Regions from separate parts of the Homo sapiens genome. Here region 1 is linked to region 2. Evidence: fine-mapped expression QTL. A gene starts in region 2. The other region holds a variant in brackets. All regions are shown on one strand. Distances are between the middles of the regions. Region 1 overlaps MUSK (muscle associated receptor tyrosine kinase). Region 2 holds the start of GNG10 (G protein subunit gamma 10).

Region 1 (16,730 bases), 860 kb after region 2:
AAAGGATTGCCTTTGAATGACAGGAACTGTCTCATGTGGAGATGCCTGAGAGGTTACCCACTTCTGGCCCTTGCCCCAGGGTGGCTCATATCCAAAGGCAAAGCAGGGGTATAAGAATTCAATCTTCTTTGCCTCTGGGTAGGACAATCTTTGCGGTATAACTCATACTCCAGAGCTCTCTGTGAGTGCAAGCTGAGGTCACACTTCCGCTGATAACACACCTTTGCCCAGCTCCTTCACTAACCAAACTTCCTTCTATCACTCCCAGAGGCATTTCCTCTGAGAGCACTCCCTCCATAAACCACTTGCACAGGAATCTTTATCTCAGGCTTGGTTTTTCAAGAACCTGACCTGATATGGTTTTGCTGTGTCCCCACCCAAATCTCATCTTGAATTGTAGTTCCCATAATCCCCATGTGTTGTGGGAGAGACCTGGTGGGAGGTAATTGAATCATGGGGGCAGTTACTTCCATGCTGTTCTCCTGATAGTGAATGGGTCCTCATGAGATCTGATGGTGTGGTCTTTTCCCCTTTTGCTCAGTACTTCTTGTTGCCACCATGTGAAGAAGGACATGCTTGCTTCCCCTTCTGCCATGTTTGTAAGTTTCCTCAAGCCTCCCCAGCAGTGCTGAACTGTGAGTCAATTAAATCTCTTTCCTTTATAAATTACCCAGCCTTCGGTATGTCTTTATTAGCAGCATGAGAATGGACTAATACATGACCTAACCCTGTATCCTAAGAGTAGTCCTAGGAAGCATACCCTAAGGTTGGGATTCTGGAGTCAGATCATTTGCTGATAGCAATGAGAACTCCAGCCCTTGGAGACGTGGAATTTCAACAGCCTTTGAAATGTCGTAGCAGTGCAGTTGCTAATGAATTTATTTGTGATGAGCAGGTGGAAGGATATACACTAATTCCTGCAATGTCTCTGCTTTCATAGAACTCATTGCTATTTAAAATGATCTGTTTATATTTTTGTTTTCATATTTATTATTTGTTCGTTAGTAGAATTAAAACTCCCCCAAATCAGACTTATCTTGTTCACTAGTATTTCCCCAGCAACTGTGACAGTGCCTAGCATTTAGTAGCTAATCACTAAGTATTGGTCAAATGAATGAATAAAAAATTAATGGAGGATTTTAAGGAAGGAAACGGAGAAGAAGAACTGTTGCTAGGAGTGAGGGGTATGGACCAGGCACTGACACCAGAAAGGTAATCATCTATTTTGAGTTCACTGCCGCCCCTCCTCCCAACCCCCACTGCTTCCTGCCAGGTGATAGTATTTTAGTTAGTAGCTCTAGGGAAATAGTCTCTATTTAGCCTCTCAAGGATAGAACCAAACAGATGGTTTCTACCTCTATTGTATCACTCTTTTGTTTCCTGTGAGTCTTGTCTGTTAGTATGATGCCATGTGTTTTCCATTTTGCAGAAATTTATCCAAATCCGTAGTCCATTGAGACCCCAGGTGGTGAGGCAAACACATGCTCTCTCTCCATCTTGGACTGGAAGCCCATCTAAACATTTAAAATTCTACGATAATTATACTTAATGTAATTATTACTATGTCAAGGCTTAAGTCTGCCATTTTATTTGTTGCTTTTTATTTGCTCTGTTTTTTTTTTTTTTTTCTGTTTTCTTGTTCTTGCCTTCCTGTGGGTTACTTGAACATTTCTTAGAATTCTGTCTTGATATATCTATAGTGGGTTTTGTTTGTTTGTTTGTTTTTGAGACACAGTCTTGCTCTGTCACCCAGGCTGGAGGGCAGTGGTGTGATCTCGGCTCATTGCAACTTCTGCCTCCCGAGTTCAAGCTTTTCTCCTGCCTCAGCCTCCCAGGTATCTGGGAGGCATGTGCCACCACACCCAGCTAATTTTTGTATTTTTAATAGAGACAGGGTTTTGCCATGTTGGCCAGGTTGGTATTGAACTCCTGACCTCAGGTGATCCACCTGCCTTGGCCTCCCAAAGTGCTGAAATTACAGGTGTGAGCCACCGCACCTGACCAATAGTGTTTTGAAGTGTATCTTTTTGTGGAGTTTTGTTATGGTTGCTCTAGGGATTACATTATACATGCATTATACAGTACGTATGTAACTTATCACAGTTACTAGTGTCGACATTTTACCAGTTCAAACAAAGTGTAGAAAGGACCTCCTTTTATATCGCTTTAGCCTCCTATGTTTATAATATATTGCCTTAAATATTTCCTCTATATGCATTTAGAGCTCAGAGGCATGAAAGTCTGAGTTGTGGAAGAGGACTTTTCTGACTCACACCTGTGGGAAGTTTGAGCTCCTTATTACACCTGGTGAGGGAGAAGTCTAGGATCCACACTCGGTCTTTGCTGGCGTGGGTGGAGGTGAGGCCATTTTTTTTGTTTGTTGTGTGTGTGTGCGCGCGTGGTGTTTGGCTAGAAGAGAGCAATTATTGTCTAAAAGGTTTCTGTCTTGCTAGGTGCCCTTTTCCTGGTGTTTTGTCTAAAGATAGCAGGCTTTAGTTGGGGCTTTTTTTTTGTTTGGTTTTTTTTTTTTTGGTATATGCCCGCTGGCGTTTCTGTGTTGCTGGCTTCTTCAGCTTCAAGTTTGAGATAGCTGAGGCCCAAAGAAAACCCAGAGAGCTCACCAGAATGTCATTCCTTGACTCTGTCTTCTTCCTAGATGAACTGTCTACTTCTCTCTACTTTTCCACGTTGGTTTTCTATGTGATGTTCGGGTTTTTAGTTGTATTTAGTGGAAGGAAGAGGAAAAAGCACATCCACCCCCTCTTCTTATAAGTAGAAGTCTACTGTGTAGATTTTTATATCTTTGAATGTTGACCCAAGTGAATGTATTACTATTAAAAATAATTAAATAAAAAATAATGCAATGAAAACAGTAAAAAGCAGATAGGAGATGTAATGAATTACAAAATCAGATTAAGACATTTACCTATCTCAGAAGAAATTGATATAAAATGTATACAATGAGGCTAAAGATAATAAATATGGAGGGTAGATCTAGAACATACATTGTAACAGGATTCCCAAGAAAAACTAGACTGTTCCAGGATCCACACTCAGTCCAGGTGGAGAACAATCAGTAGAAGACAAACAGTAGAACATACTTGACAATTCACAAACTGCCCAAAAACAGCTGGTAAAAAATCTGAAAAGCAAACAATATCTGCAGGAATTTAAAAGAAAAATCAAATTTAAACAGGGAGCTAAAGTTTCTCAGTTATCAAACTGGCTAAGAATTAAATTTGATGACATGCTAAATTAGCTGAAGTATCAGAAATAAGCACTTTCAAACATTGCTATTGGTTGTGTAAATTGTTGCAAGATTTCTGGAGGGTAATTTTGTAACATATATTAAAATTCCTAAAAAGGTTTATTGCATCTGACCTAATTATGTTAGTTCTATTGCTGTATCTGCAGGAAATAGTAAAAAGATCTGTGTAATGATTTAGCTATAGTATGTCAGTTTTCTATATAATTGCAAAAAATTAGACACAATTATATTAGCAAAGTCCTTGGAAGTATTTACTGTGTATTAGGTACCTTTCTAAGCCTTTTCTACTTATTAAATCATTTAATCTTTCCAATAACCTATGAGCTTGGTGCTATTCTTATTCTCTTTTCATAAATGAGGAAAATTGAACACAAAGGGGTTAAGTAAATTGCTAGGATTTGACAGGCAGCAGACTCAGCCCTGAGTCCATATATTTCAACACTCCATCTGCTGCCTGTCTTGATAACACTTACGCAACCTCCATATACATTTGATAACATGTATGCAACATCTAATGATTTATTATGTCATCACCAAAATAATGCACACATTGATATTTAAAATATAAAAAAGTTCTAAATTTATTGTTAATGGAAAGCTGTTAGGTTAGTAAATAATACAAAACAATCTTAGAAAAAAAATCTAAGTGTAGATTTTTGAAGTGTAGAATATTTATGTCAAACAATTAATGATTTTTCCTTTAGGGCTGTGTTGTTCTGGAATCATCTTCTAGTTTCTGTTGTGAATATAATGTATTACCTGTTAATGCTAAGTTTGGCCAAGTGCCAGATAAATTCACAGTTATTGCAATAAGAAAATAGATCTTTCATAAGAATAACTAAATTTTCTCAGAGTTCTCTGAAATTGGATGAGTAGATACCTACTTTCTTCCAAAATTGTCTCAAGTATACAAAAATTAAAAACTAGTTTCATATAGCTTTGCAAAGCTTATTAGAAAGAGGTTGACAGTTATAGAAACAGAGATAAAGATGTTTTCCCTAAAATATTTGAGGTTTATTATTTAAAAATGTCTTAAAAATTATGTCTCCAAATTGCTTGAACCTGGGAGGCAGAGTTCTGGTGAGCCAAGATCACGCCACTGCGCTCCAGCCCAGGCAACAGAGCAAGACTCTGTCTCAAAAAAAAAAAAAAAAAAAAAAAGTGTCTCCTTGATTTCTCAAATAATTGAGAAATTATTTGAGAAATGAATGAGAAATAAATAAGAGTTGATCTACCATTTGATACAGCAATCCCATTTCCTTTGGTATACACTTAAAGGAAAATCAATCATTCTGCCAAAAGGCACATTGTACCCATACGTTCATTGCAGCACTATCCACAATAGCAATGATGTGGAATCAACATAGTTGCCTATCAATGGTTGATTGGATAAAGTAAATGTGATACATATACACCATGGAATACTATGCAGCCAAAAAGAACAAAATCATGTCCTTTGCAGCAAAATGGACACAGAAACAGAAAAGTAAATACTAAATGTCCTCAAGTATAAGTGGGAGTTAAACATTGAGTACACATGGACATAAAGATGGGAACAAAAGACACTGGGGAATACAAGAAGGGGGAGGTCTCTGAAGAAGGGAGGCAAGGGTTGAAAAACTATCTATTGGGTACTATGCTTACAACCCGGGTGACAGGTTTAGTTGTACTGAAAACATCAGCACTACACAACATGTCCACATAACACACTCGCCCATGTACTCCCTGAATCTAGAATGAAAGTTGAAGAAAAAAAAGGAATATAATACCCTCTGCCTCCAAAAAAAAAAAAAAAATGTGTTTCCTCAGGCATTTCCTGGTCATCTTTGCTTTGTTCTTAGAAATGAAATTTATTTGTGGTTTTTTGCTCTCTCAGTGTCACTCCTCTGTAAGTCTTTCTCTCATCTTTGATCAGTTTATTTTTTCTTACCTGTCACTTCTGAGGGTACTCTGGGAATGGGCTAAAATTAGGGCAGCTGCTTTTTTAGGTTGCCATAAACAAAGCAACTGAGTGATGTCAGGCAGAATGATGCTGAGAGTCTCCTGAGAAGGTGATCTGAGTCAGAAAGTGACTTAAACGAGTGAAGAGAAGATAAATACATAATACTAATGGACTGTCTTAAGATTCTTAAATATAATGCATCCAAATAATTTTAAAAATCAAGATAGCAGAAGAAGAGGTGACTTTAAATTATGTTTCATCCATACTTGAGTAAAGCATCAATTGAAATAAGAAGGAGCATCACACTAACCACCACGGTGTCAACATGGCTAAAAAAGAAAGTCAGAAAGCAGTGTCATGCCAACACTTCTAATTTTAATCACAGCTCTAAATGGTCAAGAACACACCCAGAAAATGATAGTGTGTATCTAAGTCTGGGTTTTTTTGTGGTTAACATCTCTCTGACGTAACCTTAGATACTACAGGTGGTTTCTCTTCTTATGGGCAAAATGCTATATACGGTGTGTACTTTCCAGAGACTGTGGTTTGAAAGAGCAATGCTGGCCAGTTGCATAATTACAGGTCTGACGATGAAGGTTGTAAGAAAAACTAACCCTGTTGAATCTCTTAGAAGTTTTTAATTAAGAGGGATTCTGTAAAGAAGACATGTAACGGCTTACAGGTAAAGGCTTACCTTGATTTTGCTTCATTCAGAGGACATGACCTCTTAGAAGGCAAGGTAAACATCTAGACACACATAAATCTTTGTTTGTAATGATAAGAAATGTACTGGCAAATATATCAGACCCCCACACCTATGGGTCTTTCCTGTTGATGTAGTTTCTGACCTTCCAATATGTAATGACTCAGTACTGAAGGCCAAGTGCGAGTGGTGAGTGGTTTCTCTGGTGATCTATACCAAAATAAGGGCTTATAAGTGTTCTATCTTGGTGGCTGTGCTACTGAAATAGATCTGAAACAAGTAAAAGAATAGTTACCTGAAATACACTTGCTATAAAGCTTTGACTCCACTCTAACCGGGATACCTCTTCACAATAAAGAACACTATGGTTAAAATGATGGAATGAGCACCATATCGAGTTCTCCTCTCCCAGATTCTCATGGAGTGACACATAGACCACGCAGAAAAGGAAACAGTCAATCGTGCTGCAAATCAGGAATGGGTAACAGATAAATGCAACCCATTTGCAGCTGGGGAATTTCTGCCAGCTGTAATGGGAATGGGCAAGGGTATTGAGAGCTATTAAAATGGATACAATCTACCCTCTTTAGAATGAGTACGTAAGTCAGCAGCACTAGGACACTGCAAGTGTGTATTTGCACTGGAGAGGCTCTGAGACTCCTCCTCGGTATCAAGGCAACACCAAGCTCCATAGCAGTTTTCAGCTTTGCTCCTAGATCAAGCAGAAAGCCTAGTCCTGAGGAGGAGAATCTAAAGCTATCATCTATAACA[C/T]ACAGTTAGAAATGTGAGTGTAAAGTTGGGGAGAGAGGTTTGAACTAAAAATAAAAAAATCTCAGCATACAGATGGCATTTATAGCCTTGCAACCAGAAGAGATCACTAGGGATGAATACAGATAAAAGGGAGATGTCATCCAAGGATTGAGGTGTGGGCTGTTCCAACATTAAGAAACAGGAAAAGAAGGAAAAAAGAAATCTGGAGGCAAACAAGACGAAGGAGTGAACCGATAACTCCTAAACTATTTCAACTATTCCAGAGAGGACTCTTGATGAACATGGTAGTAAGAGGCTTTTCTTTTCCCCTCAAGATTTCCCCAATATGACAGTAAATGTATATGAATAAGAATCAATCTATGTACATGCTGAAACCAATCCAAGTGCCATCACTTTGACAAATATTCAAAAAGCGGAAAGTATCTTAGTGTTCTTATCCATGGGTAAGACAAGGCACAGGAAAAACTAAATTGCAGCTTTTGCAATACACACAAGCCAAGCGTGAGGGGAGGGGAGATGTGATTTCACATGTATAAAGTCTCCATGCTCTGAGTCAGCAAATACAGAGACAGGGGTGGGCTGTGGGTTGTCAATCAGGATGGTCGACTAGAAGATTGTGTATAGAGCAGGTGGGCCAAGAGGCCTCATGTCTATCCCTGTAAACTGCTATCTGAATAGATCAATTTGCCTGAGAGGTCGTTGGTGTGGGTTTGAAGGGTCCTAGGTGTGAGGCAATACAGAAAATGGGGAGAATATCATACTCTTTTGGGTAATGGAAGCAGTGAAAGAATAGCAAGTAGCTCTCCCTGGGAGTGAAATACGTCAAAATATTGTATCTCAGAGTACAGTCTTCCATCACTTTGGAACTGTGGGGATTCTGACTCAGGCTGCCTATACTTCCCTATGAGCCACATAATCAGAGCCCAGAGGTAGCCATCCCACGGAAAAGAGGTCACACTGGGTGAATATACCAACAAAACAGCAAAGGGACCCCACTTCTACTACCAATACGAACCAGAGCAACTCTTCATTTGTAATTATGTATGGTGAATAAAAAAAATCATCAAAATAATTTTCGGAAAAAAGGGCACGAAAGAAGAGAGGCAGAAGAAAAAGGAAAAATAAATATCAGGAAGAGAAGCGAATGTAAAAGTTTTGTGATTTTTAAAAATATTTCTTCCATAAAATAGAGGAAATAAGAATTAATGTATATTAAATTTATCTTATCAAATTAAAATAATGGAATACCATTATTTGGCAATGCATAAATACATGATCACATAATTGCAGATATTTTATTTTTGTTTTTTGATGTTTAGAATCAATCTAGTCAAAGCACCTAAATCTTAATTTGTTCCAGAACAAAATGCAAATATTACAGATTCATAGAAATGAACATATAGTTGACAGCGTAGAAATAGGTGTATAGTTGACTGATTGTGAGAGTAGAGAGCAGGGAGAAGTGATGGAGGGAAATTTGGAAGCTCTAATTTTATGTAGCACAATCCAGAATCAGTAGGTAACCTTTATTTAGAAATATTTGTGAAAGTTGTGATAAACAATATAACATTAGAAGTTAACATATCTCAGGAAAAAGAAAGGGAGTTTGAGTCAGAGTGCTGCATATTTTTAAAAAATTGATCAATTCAGAAAGAGAAATGCAAACCTATTTGTTAGAATTGCACTGGTAATCACCAGAAGAACTAACACTATAAATGGGTGAAGTGGTTAGCACTTAGGCTGGGACTAGAGATGAAAAGGAAGAAGGGAACTTTTATTATTTTTTTAATTTTTACCCTCTTGTGAGTTTTTTTAAACAACATTTTTATGTATTACTTTCATAAATAACAATTATTTAAAAATAAACTAACCAAGATTATAGAGAAAAACTCCTGAGTTTTTCCTAATACAATGCTAATACAAATGCTAATGCCAATACAAAACTCTAACAGAGATGAAAATGATAAACTTTTAATTTTATGAACTTAATATTGATGCAAATATATGTAAATTAATTTGGTAGTTAAGTAGAAGATTGATATGATTCGCCCAAAAAGTTTATTCCTAGAAGACAAGGATATCGCTACATTAGGAAATAAATTCATACAATTGAACATATTAACAAATCCATTAGGGAAAAAAGCCACAATCATCTGAATGGACGGAAAAGTCAACATTCTTTTCTGATTGATAAAACCTACAATAAAAGACAAATAGAAGTCTATATTTTTAACATGATAAAAGTAGTTGAAACATATATCACAAAATTTAACTCCTTAATATATAAAGTGCTCTTACAAAGCAACAAGAAAAAGATATACCCAGTAGAAAAATAATAGTAGGAGGCAAATCACCAATCAAGTATCCTCAAAACATTAAACAATGTTCAATTTTATTAGTATTTAAAGAAGTGTAAATATAAGCTATGAAATAACTTTAAGCTATTAGCTATTATATTGGCAATGATTAAAATGCTATACTCAGTATTGGTGAGACTGAAATAAATGGGCTGTCTTATCTGACTAGGAGAGGTACATGTTAATAAAATAATTCAGGAAGGTAATTTTTTAATATATTTAAAAAGTATTAAAAGTGCATTTATCCTTTAATCTAGAAATTTCACTTCTAGGAGTTATAGCTAAAGAAATCACTTAAGATAAATGCTTACAAAATTTAGCAACAGGATGATCCAAACATTACATTTTATAATGGAAAAATAGAAATAAACCAAATGTCTAACAGTAGAATAGTTATGTCAATTACGATAAATCTGTATAATACTATTCAACCATCAAAATTAATGTTGCACATGAATACTTGTTCATGTAGAAGATGTTTAAGATATATTAAGTGATAAAAGCAAGGCTTGAAGTAATGTAGCAGTATGATCTTATTTTTGTTTAAATTATCTATCTATCTCTCTCTATGTATCATCTATCTATCTATTTACCTACCAACCTACTTACCTACCTGTCTATCTGAAAAAGCCTGGAAGAATATTATGATGTTAATGTTAATTACCTCTGGTTGGTGTTTTTTCATTTTTATTATTGTCTATTATGATTATACATATTATTGTATATTATTGCATATTATTTTTCTTTTCAAACATAATATATTACTTTTATAAGAAAATAAGTAAATGTTATTTTAAGGTAAAGTAAGTAGATGTGATCTCTTGTGTAAAGTATGAAAAAGGCTTAATAGGCTTTTTACAAGATAAATCCCATAATTCGATTAGAAAATGAACACAGCAGAAAAATGGGCTGTAGACAATTGCCAAAATAAAAACTGTTAATGACCTAGGAACAAGAAACATTCAACCTGACTAGTAATTTAAAAAATAAAATTAAAAAGAGGTTCTCTTTTTCTATAACCAAAGAGACAAAAGATTTCTAAAAAACAGAAAATTATCTATGAAAGCAAATGTTTAGGGCTATGAGATCTCTTGTACAATGTAGAAGTGGCAGTAATATTTCTGCAGAATATGAAACCACATAACAGAAGTGTTAATATTGTACATGCCATTTGGTCCAGACATTTCCTTTCTCTGAATTTTCATAAAAAGAAATGTGGACATGAACAAATAAGGATGTTAATTACAGCATTTTTTATAATGATAAAAATTGGAAAAAACCTAAATGTTCAAAAATACAAGATTGATTAGCTAAATTACAGTATATGAATAAAATAGAATATTATTCCAAAATTGGGTTTTTAGAAGAATATTTAATGACGTGGAACAGGTTCGTAATATACTGTAAAATGAAAAGAAAGTGTTCTTTTTCTGCTCTACCACGATAGCAGAGAATATGTTTTTGGGTGTCATGTGAAAAATACTCTGGTATCTTACCATGTTTGGTATTTGATCACTAAAAATGACTGCTGGTGCCTTACTGATATCTGTCCTGGCACTTGGTAACAGTGACACTGTGAGTGTCTCTCTTTTGTCTACCTTTTTGAATGTATATGATGATTCTACCATGAAAAAAAATCTTATTTAAAAAAGTAAACAATATTGGTGAATAATGCATCTATACTCCTGTGATTCAGAACATTAGATCGAGCACTTAGGGAATAAGTCAGTGATCTTAACTTGAAAATGTAATTAGAACTCATGAAAAAATAAACATGTCACCTATTAGATGTTATGATTAACTTAAATTGATAATGCTGAAATATACTTTTTTTGCTATTCATTAAAAAGACTTAGGAAGTTAATAGAATAAAATATAGATATAGAGTGTGCTTGAAACGACATGCAAATTACAAATCACTTCCACAGAGTTACTGAGGTTCAGTTATTGCTTCTATCATGTACAGAGGCTCTACAGTATAGTGGTTGAGAATTCGGCCTCTTTTGGTCAAAAAGTAGGCTCTGTTGCTGTGTGCACTCGGGCCAGTTGCACAATCTCTCTGTGACTGTTGGAGGCTGAGCTTGCAGTGAGCCAAGATCGTGCCACTGCACTCCAGCCTGGGCGACAGAGCGAGACTCCGTCTCAAAAACAAAACAAAACAAAGCAAAACTAAAATGTATATAATGATAGTACCAACATTACAGGGATGTTGTGAGGTTTAAGTTCATATATTTAAAGGCCTCAGAATACACATGGTAAGATTTCAATAAATGCTAGCTGATATTATAATTTTTATGATTACTGTTACTCTATTTTCTGTCAGCCTGACTTCTATGTCTGTCTTTTACAACAAAACTTTATCAGCGGAGAAAGCCCGAAGCTGTCTTTGAATTTTGCAGAGCATACATGAACCATCTAAAATAAGCCATGGATATCTATGCTCAAGTTCTAGACTTGCTGGTGGCCCTCTCCAACTTTTCTGCTTTGTTGGCATCTTGACTTTCTGCTTTAGACACACGCTGCAACTTTATTCTTTATTCAGTCATTTGGATTACAGTATCAATTTTGGACTTAGACTCATGATTTTTATCTGAAGCACTTCTTTAGGTCTCAGTCCTAAATGCTGACCTCGCTATTTATGAACCAGAACTGTGACTAAGGACCGCCTTACTGTCGTTGTATCCTACAGAATCTGTTCAGGTCTGAAATGAGAGGAAGGCCAGCTAATAGACAGGGTGGGCAACGGTAGAGGTTGAGTCATTGGCTCTTGGGTTGAAGGGAAGAGGATGTCAGCAGGAGGATTTTAGGAAGTAAAACTAATAGAAAACTGATGATGAAAGAGAGGGCAAAGTCTAGGAAAATTTCTACATTTTTGTCTTGGTTGCCTGGAGACACTATGAATAAGAAATGGCAGGTTTCCCACCAAAGATGTCAAGCTGTTACATGAGGCAGATTTGGGGATTTCAGGCAGAGTTTTCCAGCAGACAGCGAAAATCTACTTTCAAGAATTCACACCATTCCTCCAATGCCCTAACTACCAATTAGTCTGAATTAAGATAAGCTGGTATAGAGTAGACTGTTATTTTCTCTTCCCTGTTCGTTTTCAGGAGAATTTGGGTTCCTGCTATATCAGAAATAAACTCAGATCATGTATGGACTTAGATAAAGATGTATTGTGTGAGGATCCACTGAGAAAAAATCTGAACCCCCAGGAATCTGAGTTCCAGAGCTGCTGCTTTTTTTTTTAAATCATGAAATACAACAAAATCAGTTAATATGTCATGCACAAAGTTGTTAAGCAGAACGATATTAATTCTACAGCCAACTGAATTTGTTTCTAAAAGGAATAAAATGTCAGAATGCACAGAAATATCAGTTTTGAAATAACTCAGAGCCACAAGTGTATCTTGTGAAATCTCATATTATAAATTATGGTTTAAGAGATTTAAATAGACTCTAGTAATAATATTAATAGGTGAGAATGTTGAAATGTGTGGCTTCAAAGGCAAATGCAGGAAAAATAGTAATACTTTGCAAAAGGCATATACATATCAATCTACAATGGTATTTAAAATGTTATTATTTCTGCCAGAGTGTTTATTACATGAATGAAATAAAAGAAAAAAATAGCTTAATAACTAAAAAAGGACAGAAGTCCTGGAAAGAAGAAGAAATAAAGATTAAAGCAATGGAAAAGATACCAATACAATTTTTAAAGGAAAAGGTAAATCAGTAAGATACAAAAACTTGTTTCAAGAAAACTGGAGGAATAAAATAAGCAGACTTAATTCATGACAAATGCACAGAAAGGAAAAAAGGAGGGGCACAGGACAGAAAAGGGAACTCAGAGTTACAGGCTTGCTGATTTGCTGTTTCATTCCTTAGAAACCCTCTATCAATAAAATGTAACCACAACTCTGCAGAATACAAACAAATATAAAATTATGCATTAAATGCAAGAAAGATTTAATAAAACACTAAGACTCGTCTTTGGGGGGAGACAGAATGAGTGGCTTTTCCTTCTTTTTAGTTTTCTGTACTTCACCTAAGTGTCTTACATGACGATTAAGCTACTTTCACAATGGACAGGAATTAACTCAATTAAAAAATGAAGCTCTGAATCCCATTTCATATTAAAATTTAATACAGCAGAGCTTTACTCTGTGACCAGCTACTTTGGAAACTGAACAGGATGACATTCTTCCCTGTGCAGTGTGTATTACAAACCTTCATGAAGAAGAATAGTTGTCTCCATTATCTGACACATTTCCTAGCCTGTGTTTCCAATCACTGGCTTTCAATGGGTCCGTCTACCACATGGGTTTTGCACTGTCTTTGCTCTCCCTGGGAAGCAAACAACACACTACTCATGTTTACTCTTACTCTTTCCTATGTGGGTCTTGTTGGGCCTCTGGTGTAGGATTCCCCTGGCTCACAGAGTCTGAGAGGAAACTGCAGCATTTTATTTGAACGTCTTCAACCTTAGACACTCACAGTTCCCTCTGCCCTCTCACACATGCGTTCCAGAATTCGGTGAATACTGGTGAAACTGGGTCTGTCTGCAGGCAGCTTGCTCCAACATAGACGCATGAGATTGTACAGCTCCACGGGGCAGTTCTCAGGGCAGGAGAGGATGTTGCCATCTCGCACGTAGTAAATGACCTCCTCATGGGCCATCCCATAGTAGGGCTGCAGGCCATAGGAGAAGATCTCCCAGAGGACCACGCCATAGGCCCACACATCAGACTCTGTAGTGTAGCGGTTATAAAAAATGGACTCTGGTGGCATCCAACGGATAGGGATAGCGTCGTTTTCATTAGCTTTGTAGTAGTCTGCTGAGTAGATGTTCCTGGAGAGGCCAAAGTCGGCAATTTTCACCACCATGTTCTCGCCCACCAGGCAGTTCCTGGTGGCTAAATCTCGGTGAACAAACTTACGTTCTGAGAGGTAAGCCATGCCAGCTGCCACCTGCCTGGCAATGCAAAGCTGCTCAGCACAGGAGAGGGGTGGGGGCCCAGGGCTGGAGACCTGAGCCCTCATAGACAAGTCACTGTGACTGAGGCTGCACACGGTGTGAGGGGACATGCTGCGGAGGAACTCATTGAGGTCACCATAGGCCATGTATTCAAAGAGCAGGCACATTGGCTTCCCGACAGCACACACTCCTGGAACCAAAAGACCATCCCTGTTAGTCTCAGTTTCTACAATGAAACAATGGAAAGAGCACTCCAAAAGCAAACGACCATGTCAGAACATATGAAGCCCTGTTTTTTGTTGTTGTTGTCGTATGTTTGTTTTTTAATATTTGTATCCTTTTAATCACAACACAAAAGGAGTCTCAGCTAGGAAATGCACTCTGGGTAGTGGGGTTTCTGTCCCTTGGCTAAAGTTTTTGAGGACTTCCAGCAGAGCGCTGTTGTCCTGGGCACTTGTCATAAGTACATCGTACATGGTGCATCAAGTTCATGGTGCATATAAGTACATGGTGTATCAGTTCTCTGGAGTGGCTCTTCTCTCTGAAATCTGGAGGCCCTGGTTTTTTGTTGACAACACCATGGTTGAACCCTGACCCTATTTCTCTGCCTAAACATCTCCTCTTTGCCTTTAAGATTCAGTTTATCACTCTCCCTAGGGTGCCTCAGCTCCTGATCCTTCCAGTAACTGTTAGATTTTCCTACTGTCATCCTTTCACAGAGAACCTACCATCCTATTTTATAATCATTTGACTATTTGAGGTTTCTCCCCAACGTTTTAGCACTTTGAAAGGAGAGATTGAACCTTATTCTTCTTTAAAAATTCCCCACACCTACCACGTGTCTGGCAGAGCAGATGCCTCATAATGTTTGGTGAGTTAATTTATGAATGGATGCTTGCTCTGAGTATGTAATGTAATTGCTGTCTGTTTCTGTTTACTTCTATGAAGGATGTTAATAAGAAAGATGTATCAAGTTTGGAAACAATAACAAATACAATTCAAGTGTCTTAGATGAAGTATTTAAGTTGCTGCAGTAAAACATTTTGAAATTTAGGTTTTACAATGTTCATGCTACCAAAAAAGTTAATATAAATAAAGTCTTAGATTTAAAGCCAGAAGATCATTTTCAAATCTTAAAGTCTTGATATATTTGAGAGGGAAACTGGAGAACTTGGAATATTAGATAAGATGGGCATAATTTCACATCATCTTAAAAATAGATTATTAGATCTATTGGGTTTTTTCAGGCAAAAGTTAAAAGTATCTGTTTGAAAAAGAGGAGAAATGAGGAATACTGCTATCTTGGCTTATTTATTTTGGCATTAATTTTTAATTCCAAGGACCTCAATTAGCACATTTCTGTAAACTAAAGGGAAAAAATAAAGAAATACCAACTGGATAATACTTAGAAGTTTCTTCTGTGGGATCCTTTTTGGATAATCTTTAGTTAACAGGGACTTACCTATCTCATCAACTGGCTTTACCATTGTTATGCTGGTTGAGTTGATTTAAAAATAATTTCTTATACTGGAAAAAAATGACAAAATATTTCTCTGAGAAATAAAGTTTTGAACTAAATTGATTTAATGAAATTTTCCACTCTGATAAAGAAAATACTATACAAAAGATTTCTACTTTGTGATTATTATGAACAATTATATATACATGTGTATAGATATAATTTACAATTATATATGTATATACATTTATTTAAGACCTCAAAATGTTTTCTATATTGTAATTACTCCAACCCAACTCTTAGGTGGGACTTCAAAATATAATAATTATTGAGAGGAAGACTGTATTTTATTCATCCTTGTAACCTCAGGTCTAATACTACACATGGCTCACTATGGGTTTTCAATATATGTTGATGGGTGGATGGATGAATTAATGCATAGGTGGATGCATGGATAGATTTAAGGATGGATGCATAGATGGATGGGCATAAGAAAACCTCATGCCTAGCCCAAGCCATGTCTTTAAACTTTAGCATGACATCTTCAATGAATAATCTCACCTGATTGTTCTACTGTTTGCTCCACTGCCAGAATATTCCGTAAGAGTCTATAATATTCAATGCCTACTCCCATTCTAAAATTCTGCATATTTCTTTAGTTATACCATTTTTCCCAATTTATGACTACAAAACCATTATCCACTAGGATTTCAATAAAAGGGAAACAATTTTTAAGATACGAACATGTTCAATAAGTGGCTGATGTATCAAATATATAAAACAAAGTAGATTTCTTTTATTGATAGAAGTGAATTTTATGGATTTTCCCAATTCCCCTTTCTTCCACTATTGTCATCTTATTTCACTGGGATTAACTTACAAGAAACTATGAGAGTAGTGGAATCACTTGCATGAATGATTACTGCTTATGTATACTTGATAAAAAATAGAACCTGTGTTCATTGGATATCCAAATGGAATTTAGATATAGCATTTAACAAACGGCAACATAAGTTTCAGTTCTTGTTGGACAATAAAAATGAGAGAAAACTCCAAGTAGTGATGTATAAGCATGCTACTGTGGTTAAATTGGAAAACTGTACATAGTTTCTGTTTGAATCAATTTCAGGAATTCAGGATGTTATAAACTGTATACGAATACAGAGTCAACATTTTAAGAAAAGTTGAAACAGGAATTGCTTGATAATCTTGAAAATATGCATGTATGTATGTTTGTTTAATGACTAAATGTATA
Region 2 (16,730 bases):
TCAGGAGTTCAAGACCAGCCTGGCGACATGGCGAAATCCCATCTCTACAAAAAATACAAAAATTAGTCGGGTGTGATGGTTCACGCCTGTAGTCCCAGCTACTTGGGGGCCAGAGGTGGGAAGAACACTTGAACCTAGGAGATTGAGGCTGCAGTGAGCCGAGATAGCGCCACTGCACTCCAGCCTGGGTGACAAAGTGAGACCCTGTCTCAAAAAAGAAAAGAGAAGAGAAGAAAAGAGAAAATAAAGCATCCAGCAGAGAACTTGAAGATGAAGGAGAAAGGATCACTGGTAGTGTGCAATTTCAGAGAAGGTGAAACAGATCCAGAGAACAAATAGGTTATAAAAGGGATGCCTGAATTATGACTGAATGGAAGGGATTCCAATCACTAGATCTAGAAGTTTAGTAGCTAAAAGTTAAGGGAGTTCCCATCTAATAACTTCTATTTTCTCTATTGTAACACTACTTACACTCACAGATATTTTTGTTTATTTATGAGTTTATATATAGCTATTTCAGAGAACAAATGTTGCCATTAATAGAGATATTTTCTTCATGTTATACAGTTATCTATTTTTCAGGACATTTGCAAAATTCTACAAAGACTTAAAAACAACAATTTCACTCTCTCATTCCAGCACTCAATCTCACAGGCAAACAGAAATCCTTGAGTCCTTAATACAAAATCAGACACAAAATATTGCTGTCATAGAAAAATGATTAATTAAGCAGAAATTTTATTTCCAAGCTCTTCAAAGACCGTTGCAAACACGAATAATGTATCCTTCTAAAAAAGTGTCCCAAATTAAATCAAAGGCACATCGTCGAAGTAAAACACTTGTGAAGTTAAGAATTCTTTTAGGTTGTAATATTTTCATGTTAGTTTTTAATCATTTACAATGTTCTGTGGGTCACATTTTAAACATTTTTAAATATATGAAATTCTGTATTTCTTTAAGTACAGCCACAACTACAAAGCAGAGAAACGTAAGAATACAAAAATCAAATCTGCTTCATTTATATACACGATGGGGCAGCCTAATGCACATCATAACATTAACTTTTCCAAAGAAGTTTGCTAAGAATCTGCTCCCATAATTAGTGTTAAAAATAAAGCAATCTTCCCATTTAGAAAAATCAAGACATCAGTTGATTAATAAAGCCTATTCTTCCTCCCAGCAATTTGTACTTTCTGGTCTTCATTTAGGAATTATAAATTCATGACAAAAGAACAAATTTTTTATGGAATAAATAACTTCCAGGAACAACAGTTTATAAGTATTCAGTTGTTTAAATAAACAAAACTATTTTCCTTCCTAAAATGTAAACATCCAGTAAATGAAACATACATGATATTCCAGGTATAGAAATCTTAGTAACTCACTTATGAAAGAGGTGCATTTTGGTATGTTTGGTGGTAAGGTTTTTGTTTATCTTATGTATAAAAGTACTTGCACAAAAAAAACAAGCAGTTATTACTATTTAAAATTCTATTCCTTCACCCAGTTTTCTCACTCAAGTAGAAACTCATGAATATCTGTGATTTTGGCTATAGGACCAGGCCACAGGAAAGGGCTGAAATATCTCTAAAAGTTAGGGAAAAGTGTTTTCTTGAGACTTGAAGGCAGTCATTCATCACTTTGTGCTTGAAGGCATTCCTCAGCAAACTTCTCTCCTACTGGAAAAAGAGTTTGTTTGGTTTTCACTTTAGTAAGATTTCTTTATAAAATTAACTAGTCATCATTTAATAGGGTACTTTAGTATTCACGAAATAGAAAGCAACAGGTGAGCTAGGCGCGGTGGCTCACGCCTGTAATCCCAACACTTTGGGAGGCCGAGGTGGGTGGATCACCTGATATTGGGAGTTCAAGACCAGCCTGACCAACATGGAGAAACCCTGCCTCTACTAAAAATACAAAAAAATTAGCCGGGCATGGTGGCGGGCACCTGTAATCCCAGCTACTAGTGAGGCTGAGGCAGGAGAATCGCTTGAACCCGGGAGGCAGAGGTTGTGGTGAGCTGAGATCGCACCATTGCACTGCAGCCTGGAAACAAGAGCAAAACTCCGTCTCAAACAAAAAAAAAATGAAAGTAACAGGTGAATACAAAAGACATCTAAACCACACCACTGAATGAGCAGCACCCATGAAAGTGCTTTGTAAGGCCGGGCGCAGTGGCTCACGACTGTAATCCCAGCACTTCGGGAGGCCGAGGCAGGCAGGTCACCTCAGGTCAGGAGTTTGAGAACAGCCTGAGCAATACGGTGAAACCTCATCTCTCCTAAACATACAAAAATTAGCCAGGCATGGTGCTGCACACCTGCAGTCCCACCTACTCGGGAGACTGAGGCAGGAGAATTACTTGAACCTGGGAGGTGGAGGTTGCAGTGAGCCAAGATTGTGCCACTGCACTCCAGCATGGGTGACAGAGTGAGACTCCATCTCAATTTAATAAAGAGAAGGAAGGAAAGAAGGAGGGAAGGGAAGGGAAGAAGAGGGGAGGGGAGGGGAGGGGAGGGAAGAAGGAAGCTTTGTAAAAAGAAAAATGCTATGCCAACATAAGACTATTATCTTAACACCATAAATATGAACATTTTCCATTAAAAAGTACAATAAGATTTGATAGATTGCTTCCTTCTTTTAAATGTGAACAATTTCCTTTTGCTACTTGTGAAGAAGGACCTAAGATAATTACTCACTGTATAAACACCCCTTAGAACACATCATTTGAAATATGTTGGTCCCAAAAGACTCTAATAATTCATGCCCTTGTCCTCTTAAAAAAACATTGTGTCACGCCTGTAATCCCAGCACTTTGGGAGGCCAAGGCAGGCAGATCATGAGGTCAGGAGTTTGAGACCAGCCAATTCAAGACCAGCCTAGCCAACATGGTGAAACCCCATTTCTACTAAAATACAAAAAAATTAGGTGGGCATGGTGGCATGCGCCTGTAATCCCAGCTACTCGGGTGGCTGAGGCAGGAGAATTGCTTGAACCCAGGAGACAGAGGATGCAGTGAGCCAAGATCGCGCCACCGCACTCCAGCCTGGGTGACAGAGCAAGATGTCTCGGCGATGAGGGGGGAAACACATTGTGAAAATGACCCCAATACAAAGCATTCGAACCCAAGAAGTTTCTAATATGCCACCAGAGAGGTGTTTTCATTTATCAATTTTTAAAGCTCTTTTAACCCCACTCACACTTTTTCCCAATAGCTATATTTCTTCCTCCATTAAAACAGAGATATATTCTGAAAACCATTGGGAAAGAAATCACAGCGGGTGGTAGGCACACATCTCCCACTCTGGGGAGTCCTTATTCCCAAGAGTAGCAAGTCAGTTGATAGCACTAAGTAGCAAATCCCAACCCTTGGATGCTATAAGGACAGAGAGGGTGGGCTTAAGGTCAAGAAATTACTGGCCAGGTGTGGTGGCTCACACCTGTAATCCCAGCACTTTAGGAGGCCGAGGCGGGTGGATCACCTGAGGTCAGGAGTTCGAGACCAGCCTGACCAATATGGTGAAACCCCATCTCTATTAAAAATACAAACATTAGCCGGGCGTGGTGGCAGGCACCTGTAGTCCCAGCTACTCGGGAGGCTGAGACAAGAGAATTGCTTGAACCTGGGAGATGGAGGTTGCAGTGAGCCAAGATCATGCCACTGTACTCCAGCCTGGGTGACAGAGCGAGACTGTCTCAAAAAAAAGAAAGAAAGAAAGGAAGAAATTACTACCAGCCAACTCAAAGAGCTCAAGTACAGAAGGATGTTGGCATCTCATGACTTAGTGCCAGAGAGACTTCAGACTGTCCTGATTAGATGTATTCTACAGGCAAGGTAAATATACACTAGAATCACACTTCAGGGAAAGTTGTGCATTTTGCTGGCTCTTGTTTTAATTTCCCCAAGAATAGGAGACATTCAAAACTCAGTTGCTCAAGTCCTTTGGGAAGCCCTGTGATAATGCTATGGGCCCAAGACATCATGGTGTATCATTACTCACGAGTCTTCAGAGTAAAGCACAGGATCTAGGCTCCCGGAAGGGGTTACTTCCAGCTGGAACACCCACCAGCAGGGCATCCTTGCAGGCATTCTGCATACAGTACTGTTGAAGCTCTGCAGCTGCCTGAGAGACCTGAAACAAAGGGACAGCAACATGGCACCCTGCTCACAGCCAAGCCACCCGGCAGTCAAGGATATTCTGAAAACGATCATCCAACTTGGTAAATATCAACTTTTTGTGACCTCCAAAAGTCTCTTTCTGCTGAAAGTTCTAATACTTGAACTACAAAGAGAAAAGGTTACAATTTCCATGAACGTCAATTTAGATATTTTTTGGTTTAGTTGCTTATTCAACGAAGACAAGAAAAAGCTGTATCTTTGATCCATTTAGAAATCTAGTTTTGAGACTGAACGGGTAAAGAAATAGCTCATTCTAGCATTCCCTTTACAAATTTTTACTTATATAAAACATGCATCAATATATCCAAGTTTGCCAAATGAGCAAATTGTCTTAATGTTTACAAGTCTGAAGCCTTATTCAGTCTGCTCCAAACAAGTGATAAAGTTCTTCCGCCTTGCTTTTGAGGCGGTATAGCTTATTATTTGGGAGTATAGCCTCTGGAACCAGACTGCGTGGACTCAAATTCAGCTCTGCCACTACCTATATAACCTTGGGCAAGTTACTCAACGTCTCAGTAGCTGCTTCCTCATCTGAGAAATAATTAGAAATAGTAACTCACCTCTCTGGGTTGCTGTAACAATTAAGTGAGTTCACACATATAAAGCTATTAGAATAGCGCTAACATATAGCAATACATTTGTGGTAGACTGCAAACGTGATCACAATAGTTTGCAGCTCCTTCCACGAAGAGGTAGAGTCTATTGACGCACCCCTTGAATCTGGGCTGACTGTGGCTGGGCGCAGTGGCTCACACCTGTAATCCCAGCACTTTGGGAGCCCAAGCGGGGGCAGATCACGAGGTCAGGAGTTCGAGACCAGCCTGACCAACATGGTGAAACCCTGTCTCTACTAAAAAAAAAAAAAAAAAAAAAATTAACCGGGTGTGGTGGCGTGCACCTGTAATCCCAGCTACTCAGGAGGTTGAGGCAGGAGAATCGCTTGAACCCAGGAGGCGGAGGTTTCAGTGAGCCGAGATCGCACCATTGCACTCCAAGCTGGGTGACAAGAGCAAAACTCCGTCTCAAAAAAACAAAAAAAGAAAAGAATCTGGGCTGACTTTGACCAGTAGAATGTGGTAGAAATAAAGGGCAAGTTCCAAGCTAGTCCTCAAGAGTCTCTGCACCTATCTCTCTTGGTGCAGGTGGAACTGTAAGACAACCATCTGAAGGAGCCCAAGATAGCCTCCTGGAGGTCTTGTAGAGGAGAACTGGTAAGCTACAACCAGCACCTGCCTATCAACCTGCAGACCTGTGAGTGAGGCCATTCTCAATCACCCAGACACCAGCCAACACCAGTTAACACTCTATCTGATTGCAGATGCATGGGAGAGCCCAGAAGATCAGCAGAACTGTACACCTGAACCTAGCTCAAATTGTCCATCTAAGAACTGTGAGTATAAATCTTTTAAGCCACTAAATTTTGGGGTGGTTTGTCAGGCAGCAAAAACTAACTGATACAATATCATTATCCCTTTTCTTATCTTCCATTTGATGCATATTTCTACTTGGAGGTTTTCCTCATTGTACTTTTTTTTTTTGCATTAAAAGGCATTTTGAATACAATTCACCCATATTGTACAAAAATGGTTCCAATTGCTGTTCAGGTATTACTACTAGTTTGTGTTAATTTTCCAAGCCTCCAAATAACTGGAAAATTAACTGTTTATGTTACAATTGCTACCAAGTTTCTGGACAGCTCCAGGAATTTTGGTTGCATTAATGTAATGACAGTTTACTCCATATTATATGAATATAAAACCATAATATAATATTACCAGGCTAATGCTAAAGTTTGCTTTTGCTCTCAATAGAAGCTCTGACATTTTCATGTGAATTATAATTGGAATTAATGGTTATATATACCAGTTATTAATTCAAAAGAAATCGAGAATCAATTATGCTCAGGCTTACTATCTTTGCATTGGGGTGGCAGGTAAACTCCACACATGGTAGGTGGAAGGACACTGTCTCCAGGACTCCTGGAGAAATGAGACTAACTGAACTCTAGGCTCAAGAACATGGTCAAAAAGTTAAGGTAAGGGGATACGCAGAGAAAATAAGAGAAGAGTAAACGTGATCAGCATCTCTCTAACACTAGCAAGGGAGAGAGGCTGTGGGCTGGGAGACTATAAGCCCAAATACTTGCAAGCTGTCCCCTGCCATTGGTGGTGGGATAACCTCCACCCAGGTTACCTGACTTTCCTTGGTTTGAGCCCATGTTTACCCAGCAACTTCTGTGAGGCTCCTCTAAAGGAGGAGTTCTTGGAAGGATACCAAGCATTCCTATAGCTGGGAAGGGATGTCCTCTATTATATGCTAGAAAATTGGTGTCCTGGTTTATTTTTCAGATAGCAAGTCTGTCAAAGAGAAGACACCTCTGGCTATGCTAAGCACATCCAACAATGAATGAGGATGTGAGGTAGACCAGACCCTGGAATGGTTGTGACTCTCTAAGGTATTGTCTGAGGGAAGCCCTGCCAAGTACCCCAGATCATACTTCCATGAGCGCACCTCTTAAATAGGCTTATTATCCTATTTGTAAATAAGCTTACTGCGAGCTCAGGCAATTCACCTGAATTATATGGCTCTCAGTTTCATCATCATTTTTAAAAGGTAGATAAGCACATCTTTCCGGCCAGGTGCCATGGCTCATGCCTGTAATCCCAGCACTTTGGGAGCTTGAGGCGGGAGGATCACCTGAGGTCAGGAGATCGATACCAGCCTGGCCAATATGGTGAAACTCCATCTCTACTAAAAATACAAAAAAAAAAAAAAAGCCAATTAGTGGACGTGGTGGCAGGTGCCCGTAATCCCAGCTACTCGGGAGGCTGAGGCAGGAGAATCGCTTGAACCTGGGAGGCAGAGGTTGCAGTGAGCTGAGATCATGCCATTGCACTCCAACCTGGGCAACAAGAATGAAACTCCATCTCAAAAAAAAAAAAAAAAGAATATCTTTCCTCTTTCTTAGCTACTTGGCGGGTAGACAGGCATCTGACTGGCTCACAGTTTTCCTTTCTACCTCATGTCCCCACATTGTCTTTGTGAATTTCCAACAACCCTCATTTCAGTTCCCTGACTTCTTCCCCTCAAACAGCCTTCTCCTCAATGCCAACAGATACAGTTACAACACCTGTAACTGCTCCACTTCTGAAATTTTACACTCCAGTATCCTACTCTCTGATCACAATCTCTCCTTCCCATCCAGGGTGCTGCCTCCTTTATTCTTCCTTTATTCTGCTCTGACCTCACCGAGATCACCAGGCATCACCTCCTCCCCTTCTGTCTCACCTATCACCAGGAGGCTGGCTGCATTCCTTCTCTATCCATCTAGGCTCAGCCTCTTTCTGGCCAGACCTTCACACGCCTTGCCCTCCGGCCCCACCTCCACCTTTCTGGCATACCTCCCCTGCTAACTTACTCCTCTTTCAACTACCGTTCACCTTCAGCACTCACATTCCAGGATGGTAAAGATTGCTGCAGGAAAAAAAAAAAATCACAAATATGACCAGCAGTCTCCCTTGTCACAGCAGCTGGGTCTTCAGTCACAGCGCATCTGCGTGCCTGCTCAGGGGCCACTCCCTTAGTCCCCTTTCCTCTGCCTTAGAAGAAAACCTGGCCTCCTATTTCACAAAGAAAAGTGTCACCATACAAGTTTAGCCCATATCTAGAAACTTATCTTTACACACACCCTTACCTTCTTTCTTCCTGTCTCAGAAGCTGTGCCACCAATCCCCCACCCCCCCGTAGCCCTGTCTCCTCTACCAGCAATTGGCTTCCATTTGTTTCTTCCCTGGAACCTAAAAATATAATTTGTTACTTCCTCTCAACCCTAAAACATGGCTTTTCATTTCCTAAGTTAAAAAAACACGTTATTTCCTCTTTAAAACTAGGTTTCTTTAAAAAGAAAAAACGTCTGCCTACCCTATGACAGTCCAGATTCTGCTTTTACTAACACATAAGCCACCAGACCTCTGCATTCCACAGCCCTCTCTCCCTTTACCCTGTTTATTATCTTCACTCCACTTAGTACATGAAGCGATGCTATGTATCCGTTAAGTTGCTGTTTACCTTCCCCTCCAGAACCACCCTATTCCCTGTAGCAGTGCCAGGCACACAGCAAAGGAGAAACTGAGGCACAGGGACTATCCTGGTTGTGTTCCTTCTTACAGATCTTCTGCAAATAATGCTGCACTCGTAGCTAAACACAGCTCTACAACAGACGCCTTTTAGCCAACTGACTAAACGCTGGACATGTTGACTGAGCCCCCAGTTTTTGGAAATCCCTACTTCCTTGCTCGGAAACCTTGCTGTCTCTTATTTCCTCTTCTCTAGGCCTTGCTCGGAAACCTTGCTGTCTCTTATTTCCTCTTCTCTCGGCCACCGGCCATCGGTGTGGCTGGTCCCCGGGTCCCAGGCTCTGAGCTCTGCTCTTCATAGAAGAGGCTTTTTCGCCCCAATGCACTTGAATGACCTCTTTCAGCCCTGGGCGCTGAGCTTCAGGCCATGAGGACAAATACCTCCCGGATGACTCCCCGGAGTCCCCAGGTCCGCAGCCGAACTCATCATTTCCCCAAACCTGTTCCCCCTCCTCTCTACCTCGGCGGGTGGCAGCGCCGTCCACCCTGTCACGACGACAGAAACCCGAGCATCCTGGCTCTCCTCCCTCTCGCTCTCATCCTACCAATCCATCACCAATTCGCCGCCCTGCGGTGGCCTCCCCAGCCCTGGGTCCACCCTCCCGGCCCGCGCGTCGCCGGCATCCCTTGCGCCCTCCGAGGAACTGACCACGGCCGCCTTCTGGAGTGGGCGCACCCCCAGGGACCGGGACCGACCACGACCGCGGGGCCCCCCAGGCGCGGCTTCCTCCCGTCAGGCCCGGGCCCCCGGCTTGCCCCGCGCCCTCCCTCACCGCGGACCCCACCGCCCCCGCGCCCCGCCGAGGCCTCGCCGCCGCCACCGAGTCCCCCGCTGGCGCCCGGTCCGGGCCGCCGGCCTCCTCTTCTCACGCCCCGCGGGCGGAAGGACCGGAGCGTGGGTACCCGGGGCCCGCACCTTGATCCTCTCCACGCCAGCCTCCAACTTGAGCTGCTCTACCAAGCGCTGCAGGGCGCTCGCGCTAGCCCCGGAGGACATGGCGGCGGCGCTGGGCTCCTAGGGGCTGCTGGGCCCGGCCGGGCGGGGAGGAGCCGCCAGCCCCGAGCGCGGGTGCCGCCCCGGGGCGGGGAAGCAGCTGCGCCCGCCCCGCCGCCCCAGCCCACCCGGCGCGGAGCCGCTTGCCAGAGACAGCGGGGACCCCAGCGAGCTGGCAGTGCTCTCCGCTCCTCAGCGCCTGAAACCTGGGTGGCACCTGCAGCTGGGCCTGGAACCGAGGCGGGGACCCGCAGAGCGCGGCGTCCTCCAGCGAAGCTGGCGCCCCTAGGATGAGCAGGAATCGCGAGGGCGTGGGACGCGAGGATGGAGTGGGCGGCAGCAAACACGCACCCCTGAGAAATGAGAACTGGAGCCAAGGTGTGACATGAGTTGGAGAGATAAGGGGCCTTGCCAGACAGTATCACCGGGGAACCAAGGAGAGTTCATAGGATTTTCATGAGGCAGCAACAGGTTTCTAAATGACCCTGTTACTGTTTCACGGAGATCCTACCAGTTGATTTGGTGGAGTATGGTAAATTGGATAAAATCCCAGACCCTGACATCTTTGTGAAACATACAGAATAAAATTAAATTCAGCGTTTCTCACTCTCATCTCACCATTTAACTGTCATCATTGTTTCTATTCTGCTGCTTTTTTTTTTTTTTTTTTTTTTTTTGAGACAGGGTCTTGCTCTGTCACCCGGGGTGGAGTGCAGTGGCGTGATCACAGCTCCTTGTAGCCTCCACCTCGTGGGCTCAGGTGATCCTCCTGCCTCAGCCTCCTGAGTAGCTGGGACTACAGACACACACCACCACGCCCGGCTAATTTTTGTATTTTTAGTAGAGACGGGGTTTCACGATGTTGGCCAGGCTGGTGTTGAACTCCTGGGCTCAGGTGATCCTCCCACCTCAGCCTCCCAAAGTGCTGGCATTATAGGCCTACTGCATTTTTTAATAAGTGTTTTACAAAACTGGGATCGTTACTATATTTAAAATTTTTGTGTTGCTTTTTTCCATGTATCATTAATACGTCATTATTCTTGTACACCATTGTATTTGTCAGAACTCACTTAAACTGAATATTGCAAAAGGTAATATATTGGCTTGTGTAACTGAAAAGTCCAGGGACTTTAAACTAGTGAATTCAATTACCCAAATAATAATTTTGGGGCTCTCATCCTCCTTGTTTTGATTCTGCTTTTCCTGAGATTAGCCTCATTTTCCTTGGTGGTAGATGGACTTCTCTAGTGGTATGAAGGAAGGCACCACACTTTCACTGTCCCCATCTAGCAAACCCAGGAAAAATAGTACCTCTTTTCTTTCTAATCGTTCCAGCAAAAATCCCCATAATGAACCTCACTGGCTGGTATTAAGTCATGGGCCCACCCCTGGCCCAATTACTCTTTGAAGGCAAGGATGTGTGGCATTGACGTGCTCAGATTAGCTGTGCCTGGGCCAAAGGGAGACTTGCACATTTGAAAGCCCTCTCTAGTGGCCAATTTCCTCACCACAAAGAAATTAATATATATCTTAGTAAAGAGATGAAAGTACATGTTGGGAACATTCAACAATCAATTCTGAGACTGATGAATAGGACAAAATAGAATGATTTCATATTTAAAAGATATGGCAAAGAACTCAGTGCAAAGATATACATACTGGATTAGGAAAGGCTCATCATAGATCGTGAGAGCTGGACTTTGGAGATACGTGTCTTGCAGATGGCTCAGAAGGAAGAACAGTCCAGTATGGAGGACAGCTGGAGGCGATGCACACATGTAGAGTGAATAAATTTAAAAATAGAGGAAGCTCTAGTGACTAATAGCAGATACAAAGTTGCTAGGGCCAGAAGTCATAGAAAACCTCACATACACACAAAAGTTTATGGTAAACAGTGGGATAGCCACAGGGTAAGGCATTTTGGGAATATTAATCTGAGATGAATGTGCAAAATGAACTGAAGTTGAGAAGATAAATGGCTGATGGTGGGGGAGTAGCTGGAATGAGGCCCTGGGTAGGACTGTTAGAGTAGGAATGAGGGGGAACAAATTTAGAAGACAAAATCAGTGGTACTTCATGGTGGTTATGAAATGCAAAGAAAAGAGGACAAAGGGTTCTGTAGCAGAGAGTGGGCCAGAACTAATGCCAAAACAGAAATTAGGAAACAAGACTTGGCTTGAGATGAGTAAAAAATAATGTGGGGTTTGGTTTAGGAGTAACGAAGTGACTTCCATGGCATTGCTACATGCCTTTAGGCTGCTGAAAATGTTTAGTAGCCAAGATGTTAATGTGAAGATGTCTCCACAGCAATGGCAGCTGAAATAATGAGATTACCTCAAAATCATTAGAAATGAAGGCTTTGGAGTTGCCCTCAATGAAGGGACACACGTCAGCCATGTCATACTGTATCAGCCACGAGGTAGCAGGAAAAGTCTAGGGGTGTGCTGTGTCTGCCTCCTTCATGCCCTACACACCCACTGCCCCGCCCACCTCAGTGTTACTTTGCACCGTTCAAGAGGAATGGTCTGTGATCCATGGATAAGCAGGCCGGGCGCCACTTGTACTTGAGGAAGGCTGACCATCTGTGTGATGCTCCACACTTTCCCCACAAGACTTCTCATCCATTATTTTTGCATCATGGAACTTCAAAGTTGAAGGGAACCATCAGATAGTGCGGCGCATCTACAATTTCAGAGATGAGGAAACAGATCCACTAAGGAAAGTGAAGTGACTTGCCCAGTATCACAGAAAGTGGGAGCAGGGAAAAGAATTTCATTTTAGCTTTCAAGAGAATTCAGGCCAGACGCGGTGGCTCACACCTGTAATCCCAGCACTTTGGGAGGCCAAGGCGGGCAGATCACTTGAGGTCAGGAGTTCAAGACAAGTCTGGCCAACATGGTGAAACCCCGTCTCTTCGGGGTTTCTACCACGCCTGGCTAATTTAAAATACAAAAATTAGCCGGGCGTGCTGGCATATGCCTGTAGTCCCAGATTCCTGGGAGGCTGAGGCACAAGTATCGCTTGAACCCGGGAGGTGGGGGTTGCAGTGAGACTGCGCCACTGCACTCCTGCCTGGGCGACAGAACAAGACTCCGTCTCAAACAAAGAACTCAAGGTTTACCTAGAGGACCAGAGGCCTTTCCCACATGTGCTGTGATTTCCAGAGCTCTGGAAGGTGAGGGATGGAGACAGAGTACCCTTCTTTCCTTCTCACTACAGCTAAAATGCATGGGTAACCAGTAGAATATCTTTCAAATTTTGTCACACATTTTTTTCCCTGGTTAAGCACAAACTTATCTCATTTCCAAGAAACTTTCTAGAAATGTCATTACCCTTGTAATGACAAATGTTTCATTTGTTTCCCTGTTAGGAGCTACAGTTCTTCACTCCTCTGACTTGTATTTTATCACCTGTCTACTAACAGTGGATTATTCTTCCAGGAAAGGGGTTTGTGAGTCAATCTTCTCCATAAAAATAATGACATAATGGGAAGATATTTCTGCCAATGTTATATCAAAATGACAATAATATATACCATCTATAGTTTCCAAAATGATTAAGAGTAGGAAAACACATTAATAACTATATCTAATGTGACACAGTATCATGTACTATAAAAATTATTTTACTTCTTTTTGCCTATTACATTATTTTTAGAACCCAGAAATAATGAATCAGGAGCTGAAAGAATCACCAGCAGGTTTGTAGATTCAGAATGGCTTTTCTGGAGAGATTTTCACAGGTACTTTTGAGACTTTGGGAGACGGCAGAACTTAGGGCTATTAGATGTCTTTTTGAGCAACCATTCTAAGCATATCTGTTTGCTACATTGAAAATGTCCCTTCACTAAATGTAGGCCTTAGACTAGCAACTTGCTGATCATTCTGTCATCTCTGAAAGTTTTTCTTTCTTTCCTGAGTCGTCATCTCGGCTGCTCCACCTTGCACACTGGTGGCAACAGGGCAGGCAGCTGCTTTTTAAAATACACAATTCCAACCCTAAGGAGCATCACTCCTTCACTCTAGCACCGTGCCTTGCACAAGGGATTAAAATATGTATTAAAAGAATAAACAATGGGTTTGTAATCATCACAAAACACACTCCTGTTACCATGCTTTTTTTTTTTTTAACAAATGAGACTCTTTGTTATTCCCTCTGAAGGCAAAATAACTCACATTTCCTGATCACTTAATATATGCCAGGCATTTTACCCTTGTTATCGTCTAAGAACTGTCTGAAATAGTATCTTTACATGAAAGAAAACAAGGCTCACAGGTTAAAGTAACCTGCCCAGTCAACCTTGTTCTATCCGGTTATAAAGCCAGAGTCATTCCACTATGTCGTGCTTCGTGAGGTTATAAAGGAGAGACTGTCAGATGACAGAAGTTTCTCCACCCCCGAATGAAACCAGGAAGGAGGAATCTGTGACACTGATCTGAGACCACATGATCCATTCCATACACAATTGTTGAGGATATCCTAAATCCTTTAATAATTACGAAGCTAAGGCCAGACCCTGTAGCTCATGCCTATAATCCCAGCACTTTAAAAGGAGGATCCCTTGAGCTCAGGAGTTCAAGATCAGCTTGAGCAACATAGTAAGACCCCCGACTAAAATAAAAATAAAAATAAATCAAAAAATTAGCCAGCCATAGTGGCATGAGTCCCTGTAGTCCCAGCTACTCAGGAGGCTGAGGTGGGAGGATCATGTGAGCCCAGGAGGTCAAGGCTGCAGTGAGCCATGATCAAGCCACTGCACTCGGCCTGGGCAAGAGATGCTGTCTCCAAAAAAAAAGCTGAAATATGTACAACTATCATATATCAATTAAAAAAGAATTAAGAGGCTAAAGTTTACAACTAATTATGTAGGTTTCTACTGAAATAATTTTATGAAGTAAATTTAATTTAGTTATTAGGTTCTAGATTTGGCCTTTGCCAATATTTAAATGTTAACATCACATTTTATAAATAATTATAATTCATCCATACACAACTAGTTTGTATCAATACCAACATTTATCTATTTGCTTCAAGTGTATAATTCTAAGTCAAAAGAGACCAGGTTTGATTTAATGTTTTAAAGTAGCTAGATTCCATTTATACTATCTAATAAAAGCCACATTATTTTCAGTTTGTGGCCAGCAGTCTGGTTCACACTAGCTGAGTGATACCCTAGCAATTGGCCTCCACTCAAGAAAAATATCTCCAAGGTTTGGGTATTAACAGTTTACTACTGGCCGGGTGCAGTGGCTCACGCCTGTAATCCCAACACTTGGGGAGGCCGAGGTGGGTGGATCACGAGGTCAGGAGATCCAGACCATCCTGGCCAACATGGTGAAACCCTGTCTCTACTAAAAATACAAAAAATTAGCCGGGCGTGGTGGCAGGTGCCTGTAGTCCCAGCTACTCGGGAGGCTGAGGCAGGAGAATCACTTGAACCCAGGAGGCAGAGGTTGCAGTGAGCTGAGATCCTGTCACTGCACTCCAGCCTGGTGACAGAGTGAGACTCCATCTAAAAAAAAAGTTTACTACTAGGCCAGGCGCGGTGGCTCACACCTGTAATTCCAGCACTTTGGGAGGCTGAGGCGGGAGGATCACCTGAGGTCAGGAGTTCAAGACTAGCCTGGCCAACATGGTGAAACCTGTCTCTACTAAAAATACAAAAAATTAGCCAGCCATAGTGGCAGGCACCTGTAATCCCAACTACTTGGGAGGCTGAGGCAGGGAATCACTTGAAACCGGGAGGTAGAGGTTGCAGTGAGCCAAGATCGCACCATTGTACTCCAGCCTGGGTGGCAGAGCGAGACACCATCTCAAAAAAAAAAAAACCAAAAAAACAAAAACCCCTCAAAGTAATGAATTATTATTTTCTAAACATAAATAGTACTAGTTAATTCTCTAAACTGAACCATTCTTTCATGTAACATTTTAAAAATCCTGTATCTCAATGGTCCTATTTAAGAGTAGACCTAATACATGTTATGAAACTGTAACCTATGATTTGTAGAACTTAGAATTCATAAATAAGGCAATGAAGAGTTAGTCATGGAATCTGTTATGAGAATATCTGTTATGCATATAACCTGAAGGGTAATCTTAGCAGACCTCAACTATGTAACACAATGACGAATAGATAGCATTGAACAGCTATGCTCTATAAACCCTTGAATACCAACCAAAAAGGCAATGGGAATAGCCCTAAAATGAAGTTCGAGAAAAATGTTCTAACTAGTGGAGTTGTGGGGTTCTCTACCCAGGATTTTTCTCCAGATGTTTCTAAAATGGAGAGGCTTTTGGGTTTTTGGTGAGGGATGGGCAGGGTACAGATAATAAGGACACCCAGAAGACATGACTGACATTTGTGACAACTAACGGCTCTTCCTTCACCCTAGGATTTTGAAGCATAAGGTCCATCTGTTGAGGGAAGGCAAGAAGAATCAGTTCTTCTCTCGAGCACGGCCCATTCATCTAGACTCACGCAATGACTGTGATTCCAAAAGACTGACCAAACATTACCAAGTGGGCAGGCTACTGGGGACAATTCCGGAAACATTTCTAGGAAGACTGGAAGAAATACAGTAATCTAGCACATATGCAAAAGAATATCAAAAGATGAACTGTTTTCATCAGCCAACCCTTATGAATGCTAACATGTCCAGTCCTCTTACAGTTCGTCGCTAGGTTAATAGAGGCATTCAAAAATTTTGAGAGTCGAGTACTGACATTTCTTTTTGGTCCTCATAATATATGTCACGTACTTATGTTTTTAGGTGGTAAATACCATTGTGTGTTAACTATATAATACATTCACCAGGACAGGGATTGCTGACTCTACCGGCAACCACAGCATCTTTGAAAGGCATTTTGTCTATAGCTAAGAGGTGGGCGTTTGAAGTCTAAAAAACAGTTACCTGTAATTCAGCTCTGTACCTTCTCCACACTCCTCCAACAGAATAGATGCATAAAACACTTTCATCTAAAGTTTACAAAAATATAAATAATTTTAGAGCTGCAAAAGGGCCCTAGTGATAATCTGGTCGGACTCTTCCCCAAGTTTATAATTGAGCCAACTGAAGTCCTCGCAGATTAACTACCTTGCCTCAGGTCTTTGTCTACGTTAGCAAGAGCCTTCCTGCTCTGTCTCACATTGACTGGGGCTAAGCTCTCAAAACAACTAGCTTACTTTAGCTAGAAACAGACTCTGCATATCAACTATGCTATATTAATCTTTAAAAATTATATAAAAGCAATTTTAATGTTTCATTTAAAACGTCATATCAACAAACTTGTGATATATTGTAACCATTTTATTAATATGAAGCAATGGGATAAATCCTTTAACAGGGGTACTGATTTACTACCGTGAATATGTACCAACACTTTGGTGCAGTATCATGCCTGATTCAGTCAAATAATGTGT

The links. PIP is the estimated chance that this variant, and not a neighbour inherited with it, causes the effect. A credible set is the group of variants that fine-mapping cannot tell apart.
Region 1: its variant is the best candidate, but not a certain one, in a credible set for the expression of GNG10 in spleen (GTEx, PIP 0.67).

Annotation. Positions count from the first base shown.
Region 1 is chr9:110,797,782-110,814,511 of GRCh38, reverse strand. MUSK (muscle associated receptor tyrosine kinase) reads right to left here. Exons shown (of 15, transcript NM_005592.4): 15 at 7,954-14,206. The coding sequence ends at 13,524. Among named protein-coding and RNA genes, the nearest start is that of MUSK, 140 kb to the right of the region's middle. RefSeq lists an enhancer at 5,740-5,789. The variant C/T (reference allele first, on the strand shown) is at 6,685.
Region 2 is chr9:111,654,218-111,670,947 of GRCh38, reverse strand. It overlaps GNG10 (G protein subunit gamma 10), which reads right to left and starts at 9,343. Exons shown (of 3, transcript NM_001017998.4): 1 at 9,233-9,343; 2 at 4,002-4,133; 3 at 722-1,679. The coding sequence starts at 9,313. The coding sequence ends at 4,008. It overlaps DNAJC25-GNG10 (DNAJC25-GNG10 readthrough), which reads right to left. Exons shown (of 3, transcript NM_004125.4): 2 at 4,002-4,133; 3 at 722-1,676. The coding sequence ends at 4,008. DNAJC25 (DnaJ heat shock protein family (Hsp40) member C25) reads right to left here. Exons shown (of 4, transcript NM_001015882.3): 4 at 16,603-16,730. RefSeq lists enhancers at 8,283-8,332, 8,533-8,632, 9,703-9,762 and silencers at 8,923-9,042, 9,073-9,522.